Homo sapiens: one gene and its partner. The protein of the gene in region 1 binds, or shares a complex with, the protein of each later gene. Each region holds a gene or a part of one and is shown on either strand. Other genes may lie near its edges.

The links. The genes of interacting proteins can lie anywhere in the genome.
Region 2: GINS3 (region 1) and MCM4 share a complex: the UniProt entries of both Homo sapiens proteins name them as parts of the CMG helicase complex.

Annotation. Positions count from the first base shown.
Region 1 is NC_000016.10:58,387,818-58,395,969, reverse strand, and holds the start of GINS3 (DNA replication complex GINS protein PSF3), read right to left. Parts: upstream 3,500-8,152; 5' UTR 3,369-3,499; coding exon 3,183-3,368; intron 869-3,182; coding exon of another isoform or gene 752-868; intron 1-751. UniProt on the Homo sapiens protein: Required for correct functioning of the GINS complex, a complex that plays an essential role in the initiation of DNA replication, and progression of DNA replication forks.
Region 2 is NC_000008.11:47,963,295-47,970,940, reverse strand, and holds part of MCM4 (DNA replication licensing factor MCM4), read right to left. Parts: intron 6,368-7,646; coding exon 6,229-6,367; intron 4,755-6,228; coding exon 4,534-4,754; intron 3,577-4,533; coding exon 3,456-3,576; intron 1,144-3,455; coding exon 884-1,143; intron 431-883; coding exon 65-430; intron 1-64. UniProt on the Homo sapiens protein: Acts as a component of the MCM2-7 complex (MCM complex) which is the replicative helicase essential for 'once per cell cycle' DNA replication initiation and elongation in eukaryotic cells.

The DNA.
Region 1 (8,152 bases):
GGGGGCCAGCCCCCCGCCCAGCCAGCCGCCCCGTCCGGGAGGTGAGGGGCACCTCTGCCCGGCCGCCCCTACTGGGAAGTGAGGAGCCCCTCTGCCCGGCCACCACCCCGTCTGGGAGGTGTACTCAACAGCTCATTGAGAACGGGCCAGGATGACAATGGCGGCTTTGTGGAATAGAAAGGGGGGAAAGGTGGGGAAAAGATTGAGAAATCGGATGGTTGCTGTGTCTGTGTAGAAACAAGTAGACGTGGGAGACTTTTCATTTTGTTCTGTACTAAGAAAAATTCTTCTGCCTTGGGATCCTGTTGATCTGTGACCTTACCCCCAACCCTGTGCTCTCTGAAACATATGCTGTGTCCACTCAGGGGTTGAATGGATTAAGGGTGGTGCAAGATGTGCTTTGTTAAACAGATGCTTGAAGGCAGCATGCTCGTTAAGAGTCATCACCACTCCCTAATCTCAAGTACCCAGGGACACAAACACTGCGGAAGGCCGCAGGGTCCTCTGCCTAGGAAAACCAGAGACCTTTGTTCACTTGTTTATCTGCTTGACCTTCCCTCCACTATTGTCCTGTGACCCTGCCAAATCCCCCTTTGCGAGAAACACCCAAGAATGATCAATTAAAAAAAAAATATATATATATATATACAAATATTACAGAAGAATTTCAAATGTACAAATAGAAAAAAAAAAAAAAGAAAATTTAGACAAAAAAAAAATACAAAAATTAGCTGGACATGGTGGCATGTACCTGCAATACCAGCCACATAGGTGGCTGAGGTGGGAGGATCTCTGGAGCCTGGGAGGTCAAGGCTGCAGTGAGCCATATCACACCACTGCACTCCAGCCTGGGCAACAGAGCAAAACCCTGTCTCAAAAAAAAAAAAAAAAAATTAGATAAAATGGTCAAAGTTTTAGTTAAAAACCAAATATACCAAAACTAACACAAGAAGAAATCAAGTCTGAATAATCCTATAAATGAAATTAAATGTCATACAAACCTTCCTACACAAATCTCCCATGCAGAAGGATTCTAAAGATTTAATGTAGACACTCTGCACTCAAAGAAGTGGAACATAACTCCCTACTCCTTCAGTGTGACAGTGATAATGACTTCCATCCAAAGAGTACAGTATGAAAAGGTGGAGAAACCTAATGAACATTACCTCTGCCAAGGTTCAAATGAACAGTACAAAGTCCTGTTGATAGTAGGCACCCTTAATATGTGATGAAAATGGCACTTTACCTCTGTGGTCTTCCTCCCTAAAGCTGATAATCAAGTCTAATGCTGAGAAAAAAAGAATAAAAAACAAAAACAAAGAAGGCTGGGCGAGGTGGCTTACGCCTGTAATCCCAGTACTTTGGGAGGCTGAGTTGGGTGGATCACTTGAAGTCAGGAGTTCCAGACCAGCCTGGCCAACCTGGTGAAACCTCATCTCTACTAAAAATACAAAAATTGGCTGGGTGTGGTGGTGGGCGCCTGTAATCTCAGCTACTTGGGAGGCTGAGGCAGAATTGCTTGAACCCAGGAGGTGGAGGAGGCTGCAGTGAGCTGAGATTATGCCACTGCACTCTGGCCTAGATGACAGGGTAACTCCGTGTCAAAAAAACAAACAAAAAAACAAAACCAAAAACAAAACTACCCCCAAACCAAAGATTTCCAACTGAGGAACATTTTACAAAATACCTGACCACCACTCCACAAAACCGTCGAGGTCATTAGAACAAGGAGGTCTGATTAATTGTCACAACCAAGAGAAGGCTAAGGAAACATGTCTACTAAATGCAGTGTGGTATCCTAGGTGGAATCCTAGAATAGAAAAAGGGCATTAACTAAAAACTAAGGAAATATGAATTAAGTATGGGCAGCATAGCGCCATGTTTACCAGTGTGTATGGGAACGAAATCCTCATCTGCTAGGATGAAGTCAACAGATAATGTCTACATTAAAAAAAACAACCCAACAAGGTAAGTTTAAGAATATTATTTAGAAATATGAAGATGAATCTTGAAGACACCACTAAAAAAGGTACATGAGCCCTGTGGACTTGGAGGGGGAAGTGGGAAAAGGAAGGCAGGACCTGCTATTTTTTTTCTTATAAATCTTTTGGTACTATTTGACTTTTTTTTTTTTTTTTTTTGAGATGGAGTCTCACTCTGTCGCCAGGCTGGAGTGCAGTGGCACAGTCTCGGCTCACTGCAACCTCTGCCTCCTGGGTTCAAGAAATTCTCCTGCCTCAGCCTCCAGAGTAGCTGAGATTACAGGCGCCGGCCACCACACCCAGCTTTCTAGTAGAGATGGGGTTTCACCATGTTGGCCAGGATGGTCTGGATCTCTTGACCTCGTGATCCGCCCGCCTCAGCCTCCCAAAGTGCTGGGATTACAGGCGTGAGCCACCGCATCCGGCCTATTTGACTTTTAAAACGTTGGTTATGTATTACTTTGATAAAAATTAACTTGAAACAAACAGACCAAACAATAAACATCGTTCTATACAAAACTTAGGTGAAACAGGATATCCAAATTAATCATTACAAGCCATGTTCCTGGGACAATTTTATATTTGAAGCCATATGGCCTTGGGTTCCGAATCCCAGCTCACCACTAACTGAAGCCCTGGCCAAGTGACCCAGCCTTTCTGGTTGCTGAAGGATTAAAGGGAAAAGCTTACTCCCCACACCCAACCATGCTGCCACTAAGTAAGCCTCAGTAGGGCTTACTGATCCTGTCATCATTATGGAGGAATGAATTTAGCAACTTGGGGTTCCTACTTATCACATGCTCTTACAGAACCCAAAGCTGTTTTAAGGCAAACATGATCAGAACTCTAATTCTTAAGTATTCAGCTGGAGCCAATCTTTAAGCATTCAACACACGTTGCATGGGGTAGGGGGAAGACACTAATTTGGACAGTTTCAAAAAAGAAATCAATGTTGGAGGCTGCCTGGCGACCTAGGATAAATGTAGTTTCACCACAGATGGCGAACAAGAAGTCTGGAGACCACCCCGAGCGCGAAGGGACCCCCGCGGAGTTTCCGAGAAGTCGTTAGCGCCTTCGGCCCTGGCTCCTCGAAAACTACAAATCCCAAAGGGCAGCGCGCCCCGATGCGGCGTCCCAGGGCCGAGGGGCCCGCCGGGAGCTGCAGTCTTTCCGGGCAGGACCCCGCACCCAAAGGCTCACCTGTGGGACCGCGTTGTCAGTCTCGGCGCCTGCGCTCCGCTCCAGGAAGAAAGCGCCAAGGCGAGGCATGGCGGTCTCCGTGCGCACCGGCAGCTTCTCGTGGGACATCAGGATGTCGTCCAAAGAAAGAAAGTTCTCCTCAGGCCCCAGCGCACCCGACTCCACTCGGAAATAAGCCTCTGACATGGCGGCCACTTGAGCTTCTCCGCTTCCACTCGCGTGATTCGGAGGAGCCTCAGGAGTTAGGGGTGTACAAGACGGGGAAGCGGAGACTGGGCAGGATGGTTGGGGTCAGGAAAGTGGATTGAAACTCGTTTCCCGCGCCCGGGGACGCATCAGACAGGAGCAGTCAATTCGGGCGGTACCGCCCAGGCAGAAGCAATCGATCAAGTCTGCAGATTTAGAGCAGCGGGACACGGCTGGGGAGCGGTAGGTGGGGGCGCCGGAAGTTCTCTTCCCTCCGCTTGCTGCACGGTGTGGGAACGTTACGAAGAAGCTGGAACGCTCGTTGAAGCTCCTGGACCCATTTGTACTGGATTGTGTTCATGTGATCCTTAACTATTTATATGAAATTAAAAACACTTTGCAACACTTTTAGGGGTTTAAAATAAAAGCATCTTGTGCCCTTCACTCCAGGCCTAAGTCCGACCCTTTCCTACAGTTTTTTTCACTATGCAACTCCGTTAATCTTAGTATTTGAAAGAAATGTTAAACAAACAAAAACTTCCAGCACTATCCCCAGCGAGTTATTATGGTCTAGATGATGAACTAGTGTGTTGTATTTTGTTAGTATTTTGGTGGGGGTTGGACGGGGTGGGTAGAGGGGTGGAGCACTAGACTGCACATGGCTTGCTAAGGTTGTGAGTATACTTCAGGGTGTCTTAGCTCATCATCAACTGACAATCTCCTTTTGTGGCTCTGAATTTAAATCCCTAAAAATGGAAATCCAATTGGTCCAGTTTATTGATTGGTCCAGGTACGCCACAATGGTCATAGATCTCCAGCCACCCTGTAGATGGGGGTGCCTGTGTTGGGTGCGATCACTATCCAGTGACCAGGGGAAGGACCATGGTCGCATAGTACCAGGTTTGGTGGCTCTCCTCAGCCAGGGCTATGGGTGGCGGCATATTGTTGAGAGATGCACTACAGAACTTACTTCGTCTAGAGCATTTCTGGGGCTACTGGAGCCGGGAGTAAAGGGTGTGTGTGAAGGGAGGTGTGTATTAACCATGGATTTTAGTTTCTGTTTTCTGTATTTTATGATGCTTTGACATCTTGGGGCCTTGGGGACCTGGGGAGGAATTGCCCCTTTCAGAGTTAGCTAATTCCTAGAGATAGCAAACAACTTGCTTGTGAACACCCCTTTCATTTACAAACCAACCAACCCAAGCCTATATCCCCACACCATCTTTATCCATCTCACACACCAATATTTTCCCTGCCCCAAGTCACTGTAATAAACCACCCCATGGCCAAGTACCAGACAACTAAAATTCACCTCTATATCCCAGAGCTTGCCAACATTATTCAAATTATTCAATCCTAAGCTTGTTCAGACTTCCCTTCCCTGCTTCGCCCATTCCTTCCCACGGCAATAAAGGCTCTGGGCTTTCTCCTCGCTCTCTCTACCTCCTCATTGACCCTAATACTTTCTCGTGTGGCCGTAGGCACAGCCCCTTCTCTTGAGAACTATAATAAAATTTTCAAAGGCATTGGCCACTAACTCATTGATTGTCATCACCCAGTCACCTTTATAAATGAAATTCTGAGGACAATGAAAACAAGGTGCAGTGGGGTGGAAAGGAATGGCCAAACTGTGGAAAATCTTGGTACCATTCTAAGGAGTTAGGCCATTCCATAGAAAATGGGAGGAAAATGTAAGGCAAATAATAACATAAATCTGGGCTTCAGGAAGAGAATTCCAGCAGTAGATAAAGAAGAGAGAGATTAGATGCTTGGAAGCTGTTCAGTGGGCAGTATTTGGCAACCAATTGGATATAGGAAGTGAAGTATAGTGAGTAGTCAAAAGATTCAAGTTTTGAACGTGGCTGACCAGGTGGATGGACATGTCATGAATAGATACACAGAACACAGGAATAGGGGCAGCTGGAGGGAAGGGATGAGTTCAGTTTGGGACACATGGTGTCCAAGAGCTACTAGACAGGAAGGTCTGCAGCCCAGTGGAGAAAGCAGCCTAGAAGCTTTAGAGAGGAGGCACACTGAGAGGCAGTTATATGAAGGTTTTTTCCTTTTTCATATTTTAAATGTTCAGTTTGTGATACAGTCCAATGTAAAAATAAACACAATCTGCAGTGATAATTTAGAATTTCTCTGATGACATGGAATATATGGTACTGGATGTAGTTTGAGACAGAAATATAATTTGGCTAATTGAAGGCAATGTTATTTACTGCCAAGGAGAGTAAGCTATTTTTTATGCTGATATAATTAAGATAGATGCATACTGATTTATTGATGCCAAAGAAAGGCATTATTTTTGTACAGAGACCACAATACTGGCTCCAAACTCAAATACCACTATTATTTTAATAATACAGTAACAGGCCAATGTTTAACATAAAATCAGATTGCCTTGTTTGTCTTACTTAATGTCTTGGCTCATCATGAAACTATCATTGTGTATATATTGTTCTATTTAAACTGTCCTCTCCTTGAACTAATAAACAAGTGAATAAATCAGAAAAAGGTGAAATTAGTGAATGTTTGAGCTTATGATGCTGAACTGCATCAATTCATTTAACAAAAGTGGCATGTGGTTTTCAAGCATAGATATGTGTTAATAGCTTAAATCCTAAGAACCAGGAGTATTTCTGTTCCCTGAGAAAGCTGTGTTCCTTGGCACCCAGCCAACCAATCAATGTACCAGTATTATGCTGAACAGAATTGCATTATACTGATAATATTCACAGTATATTTGGTATATTTACAATATACAAAATTTAGTATTCTGAAAAGTGTCTGCTGGATTCTTGAAAACAGAGTATTTTTTTCATTGTAATCCTTTCAAGATTTCAGAATCATAGAACTACAGTGTTTTAGAACTTAGAACAAGTGTTTTGGTGAACAGGGCAGGGGCCTCTTTAGCTTTTATGACTTGCCCTCAAAAGTCATAGCCTCCAAAGAACACACAGGCTTTAGATGAGCAAAACCTCAAGCAGTTTTACGTCTGTTCTTTTGAATACCAGTGCTTTCTAAATTTCTTTCATTGAGTGGGGAGGTTGTGGTGCAAGTGACAGAAATGCAAATCTGGGGGTGGGGAGAAAAAGAAGAAATATGAAAAACTGTACACATGGTTCATTGAAAGAAAAAGAAAGAAAAAAGAAATGTATTGGGCGCCATCCTTCCAGTTGCTTGGTCAGGTCAAAATTTGGGGGTTTTCCTTGATCTCCTCCCCTAACCCTTACACTTTGTAATGGCCCATCAGCTAAATGGCCCATCAGCAAATGTTGACTTAACATTCATATTTCTAGAATCTGACCATTTCTCATCATTCTGGTTTAAGCCACCATCATCTCTTGCTTGGATTTTTGCATTAGCTCTCTAGTCTTCTTGCTTCTGCCCATGACCTCCCTATTGTTCCTTAAGCATCCCAGACACACTCGGTCCTCAGTGCTTTGCCTTGTTTGTTCCACTACCTGAATTGTGTTTCTCTTGGATTTCCACATGGCTTGTCCCTTTCAGGTCTTTACTTAAAAGTCACTGTCTCGATGAGGTCTTCCCTGGCCGCCCTATCTAAAATTTTAACTATTTAACAACAATTTTAATGACTCACACACTTGATATCCCCTGCTATGGTTTGACTGTATCCCCCAAAATTCATGCATTGGAAACTTAATCCCCAATACAATAATGTTGGGATGTGAGTCCTAATGGGAGGTGTTTAGATCATGAGGGCTCTACCCTCAAGAATGGATTAATGCCATTATAGAAAGGGATTGGAGGAGTGGGTTCTCTCTCTACACATGCCATGTGAGGACACAGAATTTGTCCCATTGGCCCTTCTGACTTCCACCATGTGAGGACAGCAAGAAGGCCCTCATCAGACGCTGGTGCCTTGATCTTGGACTTCCCAGCCTCCAGAATTATAAGAGAATAAATTTCTGTTCTTTAGAAATTACCCAGTCTCAGCTATTCTGTTACAGCAGCACAGAATGGACTAAGACACCCCGTTTTCCCTTCAGTACTGATCAGTCTCTAACTATATATTTTACTTATCTTGTTTATTTTACTTTATTATTTTTCTTTTGAGAAGGAGTTTCTCTCTTGTTGCCCAGGCTGGAGTGCAATGGCACAATCTCTGCTCACTGCAACCTCCACCTCCAGGGTTCAAGTGATTCTCCTGCCTCAGCTTCCCGAGTAGCTGGGATTACAGGCATCAGCCACCAAGCCCCGCTAACTTGTATTTTTAGTAGAGACGGGGTTTCACCATGTTGGCCAGGCTGGTCTCGAACTCCTGACCTCAAGTGATCTGCCCACCTCGGCCTCCCAAAGTGCTGGCATTACAGGTGTGAGCCACCTTGCCCGTCCTTTTATCTTGTTTATTGTCTGTCACCCCTACTAAAACATTAGCTCCATGAGGGTGGGGATATTTTTTAGTCTCTTTTTCACTGCTATATCCCCGCTGCCTAGTATGTATTAGGCACTTTGTAAATATTTATTGAGTGATTTAGTGTCTCTTTATTTAGAGCAGTGATATTAAATTTCCTTTAAAACATTAAGTAAAAGTTTTAAGTAAATAATAGTACAGATGATATGTAAATATTAGAGTGGTTACAAAATGTAGCAGTAAAACACTGAAAATACTAAGTTAAAGTGGCTAAAAAATAATTTGCCGGGCGCGGTGGCTCACGTCTGTAATTCCAGCACTTTGGGAGGCTGAGGCAGGTAGATCACAAGGTCAGGAGTTTGAGATCAGCCTGGCCAGCCTGGTGAAACCCCTCTCTACTAAA
Region 2 (7,646 bases), on another chromosome or scaffold:
CCTGTCTTTCAAGGGTCCACATATTTTAAACACGTCCATGTTCACGGTGGAGAAGGCGACTCACCTTTGCAATGGACAGAGTCTGCTGTTCCATGACTTCATGCAATACCGATCTTGTACTTTCATTCATCTTGTCGAACTCATCGATACAGCAGATGCCGTTGTCACTCAGGACAAGAGCACCTGTCTGCAGGACCAGCTGCCTTGTCTCAGGGTCTTTCATTACGTACGCAGTGAGGCCAACTGCACTGGAGCCCTTCCCAGACGTGTACTGGCCCCTGGGGACGAGGTTGTACACGTACTGCAGCAGCTGGGACTTGCTGGTACCAGGGTCGCCACACAGCAAGATGTTGATCTCAGCCCGAAATTTGCCCCTTCCAGTGTGACTAAAATCCTTCCTTGTCCCGCCAAAGAGCTGAAGCAAAATTCCCTAAATAATCAGAGACATGTCTAAACATTCATTTTCTGCACAGTTAACTGAGATGTAGTTTAAACTTTAGAGGTACTTTTCTCTCTTATAAAGAACTACAATTAAGAAATCACAGGAAGGTATAAAAAGGCTCGTGAAAGTGCTTGATATGCTTTAAGTTATCACTGACCAGTTCATCAGCACCTATCATTACACCAGAATGGTGGCCATGCAAGTCCCTATTCTGACACTGTGTGGCCTCTTCTGTTTAGAAACCTAAGTTTAGACCAGAGATGAGGATAGACAATGCTATGATTCTTCTCAACCAATGGCAAGTCAGGTTGCCAGCACTTGCTCTAACAGGCCACAACTCTGTCCTTTATGGCGGATGGCTCGAGTGGCGGAGTGGATGTTTATACTATTTGATCCCAAAGAATTGTAAATCCCAACCCCTAGTTTAAAATCCACTGTTACCTTCTTTATATCTTCATGTTCATAAATGCTTGGAGCCAAGGCTGAAGCAAGCCTCTCATAAATGTCTGGTTTCCTGGAAAGTTCCTTAAGCAATTCCACACGTTTCTCTGAAAAAAGTTTCTGTTCTGCTTCTTCATCAAGGCCATGCAGACGTTTTGCATCCGTTTTCCGATAATGAATGACATCAATGTGGGTTTTGTAGACAGACTTCACATTACTCACTCTTGGATTGACTCGAATAGGCACAGCTCGATAGATGCCTGAGGGCACAACCAGGAGATGCACTTTTACCTTCCCATATCTTCCTCCGAGTGGCTCAGCAACCAGCGTAGGCAACAGGTGCACTTCAGAGCGAGGCACCACGTCGGGCTGGCCCTGGAAAGGGTGAGCTCCACCGTCTCTTAAATGACCCTCCCAAGCCCAGGACTCAGGCCCACATTGCAAAGCTCCCGCTTGCTATGAGCAAGCAGGGAAATAGCAGCAGGAAACGGACAAGCTCGAAAGAACCAAGGTGGCTCATGTCTGTAATCCTAGCACTTTGGGAGGCTGAGGCAGGCGGATCACCTGAGGTTGGGAGTTCGAGACCACCCTAATCAACAAGGAGAACCCTGTCTCTACTAAAAATACAAAAATTAGCCGGGCGTGGTGGCACATGCCTGTAATCCCAGCTACTCGGGAGGCTGAGGCAGGAGAATGGCTTGAACCTGGGAGGCGGAGGTTGCGGTGAGCCAAGATGGTGCCATTGGACTCCAGCCTGGGTGACGAGAGCAAAACTCCGTCTCAAAAACAAAACAAAACAAAATGAAACAAAACAAAACAAAACAAAACAAAAGAGAAAGAACCCAGGTTTCTGCAAATGATAGACCCGAGGACGTGTTCACCTGGGCCCACTAGTCAGCAGTGCTCCAGGGCAACTGTAGCTACGTGAGCATGCCCACGGGCACAGTCACCCTGAGGGTGAAATGGAGCTGCTGTGCTTCTAGCTCAATGCTGGGTTCGTGGTTGTTTTTAATAAGCAGTATTTTTACTTCCCTAAGTTGAGTGTACAGAATCTGCCTAGCACTTACTTGACTGCAACAAAATGCTAAAATCCTCCAGTCATTAAAACTAGACTAGGTCCCCCCAACCTACCCACCACCCCCGACAAAAGCATGCAAATCATGCATTCTTCTGGAAGCCAGGCTCCTCACATACAGAGGTCTGATCTGATGTTCGTCTTTTCTGGATTTCAAACCAGAAGGCTTTAACTCCAGGCTGATTCCTGCAGCTTTTGGAGAAAGCCTGGCCTTTCCCCGTTACAGCTATCTCAACGCAATGGCACAGAGCACTGTCCTTGTTTATTCAGTGGGTCAGTGTAATTCTTGTTTAACACAACAAACCAGTTTACACACATTCTTAGAATACACACTATTCTTCACTCCAATATAGGCTAGGGATGGAAGATTATGTTTAAAGTGGCCCGGAATGATTTATCTCACAGAGCAGCATTGATACTTATTTCACATCTACACAGCACTTTCCACAGCCCCTTGGCCCCAAACACTCTCACACATGTATCATCACATTAACTCCACTTTGTAGGTGAGGAAACAAAAATATTGGACTAAATACTTTATCAAAGGTTTCAGGGTAGCAGGACTGGAAATGCGCACGTCACTCACTAAAAACTACGCATTCTTTCAAATTCTCCATGACTTCAAGTACTTTTACGACGGAAGATTGCCAGTGATAACTGCGGGACTTCACACTGGGGAAGAAACAGGGTGAGCACTGCCTCACTGAAGACAAGAGCCGATGCGTGGTGTGCCCCAGGCCCTCCGCTCAGGAGCAGATTCAGGCACTCCGCGACCGTCGCCACCTTGCCCATCAATGAAGAACCGTGCTGCCATCAACACTCCCTTGCCCCCAACCAAAATCCATTGTGACTCTACAGCATCAAAAGGAGGACTGCCACACTCATATGGTGCTGTGCAAAGAGCACTCTTGTGGCAGCAAGAGAAGGAGACCTGGGTCCTGGGTTCTGATTTACCGTGGCATCTGAGCTACTGCTGTCTATGCATCCCTGAACCTCAGCTTCTACACATGGAAACAAGTCACTGACTCATTTTTCTCTGTAACAAACAAATGTTAACCCTTGGCTATACATTTGGGAAATTAAGTAAAAATTACTTAAAACTCCAGCATTGGTGAGTAATACTTCTCTGAGCTGATGGCATAACTCAAAACTTTACCCATACAAGCCTGTCTGAGGCTGCTCTCTCATGATGCCAACAGTACTGACTTGAGACACACACAGCTCCAGGATACTGAGGTATCAAGAGGCGAGTGACCACACGAACCATGAGCTCCAACATTCAAGTTTGGGAAGAACTGAACAATTTCATACTGCTGGGCCATGGTACTCAGTTAAAAAGGTGGCAGATAAAGCAGGGATATACCCCACAGTCTCAAAGACAAGCAGTGACAACTGGAGGTAGAACTGGACCTGTGACCAAGTCCAATGACTCACTAAAGCACAGCATTGAAAGCAAGCCAGACATGCTCAAGTGCTGGTGCAAACCTACACTCTTACCTGTAACATTCACTCTGTCCCCAGGCTGGACCTTGTCAACGAGATCATTGTGAGCAAACAGGATAACTGTGTGTGGTGTCTGCCCTGCAGGCATGTCTTCCGGAGACTCCTGAAGCTTGATCTGAAGGTCAGCAAACAGAGAACATGTGGGCCACAAAGAGAGGGCAGGGGGACAAAATCTGCATGTCTTTGTACTGCTTTTGCCATATAAGGCTGCAGTGCATATCCCCACATAAATGATTGTCCATGTTTCTCATTATTTCCTTAGAAATTACTTCTTCTAAAGAAGTTGCTGCAACAGACAGCAACAAAACAGGGGAAGGAATGTAGGGAGCTGCGGTGGGGGAAGCTGAGATGCTTTTCATAAAGCAGGGTCGAGGAAGGCCTTTCCAAACCAGGTACCCTCTGAGAGGCCTAAGGATGCTGGGCTTTTCTCTAAGCCACTTTGGGGGCCTGCATGATTCTGAGAATAGGAGGCCATGTGCTCCTGCGGAGCAGGGTGCCTGCCTTTCTGTCTCCAGCTCTCCATCCCATGCAACATTAAAGAAACCATGCACACGCAGTCACAGAAAAACTCAAATCCTGTCCTCCCACATCTTTACAGTCACAATCACGGTAAATAAGCAATTTTCTACCTTCCCCTCACTTTTTTCTGTCATTTTAATAACTTCATCTTAAAATTTCATGAATATAGAGAAAAAAGACCAAACTTCTTAGACAGTAAAATTTGTGAAAAAATTTCAGAAAAATTCCTCAATCCTTTACCAATGGAAAAAGCAGAATGACATTTAACCAAGTATTCTCATCTCAAACGTTTGAAGCATTTTAGGCCATGAAAATACAGTGTCTCTAACAACAGACAGTGCCACTGGCAACAGCACAGGGACAGTGCCCTGAAGCAGGGGCTTTGCGTGCTCTGCATATTTAGCCCATAGGCCACTAACGAAACCCACAAGACCAGAGAGGGATGGATGCCATTCGGGAAGTGAGGCTCAGGGTCCGAGGGACAAGTTATAGTTGGCCTTTTGAGGATACAGACAGGCAAAGCATAGCCTGGGGGGCCAGGGTGGCTGCGCACCATCTGCTTGTCAGAGAAGAGGGAGCGGTTGTGGATGAGTGCCATGCTGTGGGTGGTGTGGCAGCGCCCGCACACACTGGGCTCTGCAATGCGGCCGCGGTCCATCTCCACCCGGGTCGTGTGGGCACACACTTGGCACTGGAAGAAGGCCTCCTGCATCTCGGGAATCAGCTGGGATGTCCTGATCACCATGCCGCTGATGGTGATGAGCTGGTCAATGTCTGTGAGGGGAGAAGAGAGGTCAGCACACCTGACCTGAGGTGTGGAGGTCCAGGAATAGCTGGGATCACAGACAGGAGCTAGGTGCCCAAGACTCTGCCTAGGGCGACCTTTCTGTGTCCAGTCATCTGCAGGCTATGTCTTCAGGAGACTCTCAAGCCCAGCGAACCTCTGGCCCTTCTTCCTCAGGGCCCCTGTCCAGCAGGCATCCCTCGTTCCCTTCTTGTCTGCCTACCCTGCTCCCTGCCTCCTGCCTCACTCACCTGGCCTCCTGTATGACACCCTGCTGTGTCAGGAAAAAAGCCAGACAGCCTGGACTGAGTCCTGACCCTAGCCTTTCTGTGTACATTTTGTGTCCCCTATAGAATGGGGTGGTATCAGCACCTATCCCAGAGCCAAGGACTGAACGTGCCAATGTACTTCAAGCCTAGTAAGAGCACCTGGTAGAGAAAAAGTCCTCTATACTTTAAAGTCATTATTATCCACACAGGAGAACCCCTTAGATGCTCTGATCTTTCACTCTTGCTCGTTTCCTCTATTATTTGAACCTTTCCTGACAGACAACTTTTTCCCTTTGAAGGTCCCACTGCCCGCAACTAATTTCCCCTGCTGGTTTCAGACAAGCTACCCTGTTCTGGCCTGTATTTAGCCACTGCTAGCCGTGAAGATCACCCTATCCTGCCACTGATTCATGAGACCTCTACAATTTTGTTGTTGTTGAGATGGGGTCTTAACCTGTTGCCCAGACTGGAGTACAGTGGTGCAATCACTGCTCACTGAAGCCTCAACCTGCCAGGCTCAAGTAAGCCCGTCACCTCAGCCTCCCAGAGTGCTAGGATTACATGTGTGAGCCACTGTGCCTTGCTAATTTCTTCTTAAAAAGAGATGGAGTCTCTTATGTCACTCAAGCTGGTCTCAAACTCCTGGCCTCAAGTGATCCTCAAATCTTTAAAATCTAATTTTTTTTTTTTTTTGAGACAGGGTCTCATTCTGTCACCCAGGCTGGAGTGCAATGGCACAGCCTCTGCTCAGTGCAACCTCCGCCTCCCGGGTTCAAGCGTTTCTCCTGCCTCAGCCTCCCGAGAGTAGCCGGGACTACAGGCGTGTGCCACCATGCCCTGGTAATTTTTCTATTTTTAGTAAAGGAGTTTTGCCATGTTGGCCAGGCTGGTCTCAAACTCCTGACCTCAGGTGATCCGCCTGCCTCGGCCTCCTGAAGTGCTGGGATTATAGGCGTGAGCCACTGTGCCCGGCCAATAGTCACATCTCTTATATCAGAAACTTCAATTAAATTTAAAAAGTATAGGGGGTTCATAAGTATATAGGATAACTGAATCTATATTATTGTCAATTTATAATCCGTCACCTTGACTACCACCGCCAATTACTTCTTTCATAATTTCTCAATGAAAACAAGGCTATTTTCATGTAAGGCATTTTCCTTCAACAAAAGTAATCCTATGAAAAATACATTACCTTCTGGATTCAGGTTTCTCATATTCTTAGTCTTCAATGCGTTGAATGGTCTTACTTGAATCTGATGTTCTAAGATTGAGTCAGGGTAACGGTCAAAGAAGATTTCATTGACAGCCATGTCAAAAGTTGGAATAACTTCCTGTAAAAACAAATATGAAGATGTATTTGTATTCATATCTCAGTGTTAAATATAATAAAGGCATGTCAGATTAGCAAAGTATAAAAAGACAACATGTCATGTCCCCAAAGTATTACCCTACAGAATCATGCACGTGCTGTTTTCAAATTTAGGTATGCTGAACTATCTATTTCTGCATATTTTCAATTGGGTTAAATTTCATAATTTATACGAAAGTGCCTTCTTGATGTATACTGGCATATTCTTTGCTTTCTATTAGAAGGGAAAAAGATTTTGACCTCACACTTTATTTTCCTTCTATAATGAAGTGATACCAAAGTAAGTTTTTTATTTATTTATTTTTAATTTTTGAGGCAGAGTTTCACTCTTGTTGCCCAGGCTGGAGTGCAACAGCATGATCTTGGCTCACTGCAACCTCTGCCTCTGGGATTCAAGTAATTCTCCTGCCTCAGCCTCCCGAGTAGCTGGGATTACAGGCATTTGCCACCACGCCTGACTAATTTTGTATTTTTAATAGAGACGGGGTTTCTCCACGTTGGTCAGGCTGGTCTTGAACTCCCAACCTCAGGTGATCTGCCTGCCTCGGCCTCCCAAAGTGCTGGGATCACAGGCATGAGCCACCGTGCCTGGCGATACCAAAGTAAGTTAAATCATATTTATTCAAATTTCTTAACATATGGTTCCCATTTTACAGATGAGGAAACAGCTTTTGGTTGGCTAAGGAACTTGACCAAGGTTATGCAGCCAGTAATCAGCAAAACCAAGATTCAAAAACCAAGTCTGCTTGCCTCCAAAGACTACACCCAGAGTCAACAGAGCTGATACTTCATTAATAGAAACTGACCTGAGGCTTAGAAGTAAAAGTCTACAGTACAATATATTCTTTCAAAGCAGCAGGAAGTATGTAATTCATTTAAAGTATTTCCATTTAAGATAACTTACTTCATGAAACCCAAGAAGCTATCAGTTTTAAGATTCATCATTTTTCTACATGAAAAACACTGCCAAGTAAACCATAACCTGTCATTGATAGTAATACAAGTCCCACTTTCAGGAACATTAAAATGTGAAAAAAAAATGTTCATCTTAAAGGAGATGATACATAGTTTTTTTTTGTTTGTTTGAGATGGAATCTCACTGTTGCCCAGGCTGGAGAGCAGTGGTGCCATCTCGGCTCACTGCACCTCTGCCTCCGGGGTTCAAGTGATTCTATCGCTTCAGACTCCCGAGTAGCTGGGACTACAGGCATGCACCACCATGTCTGGCTAATTTTTGTATT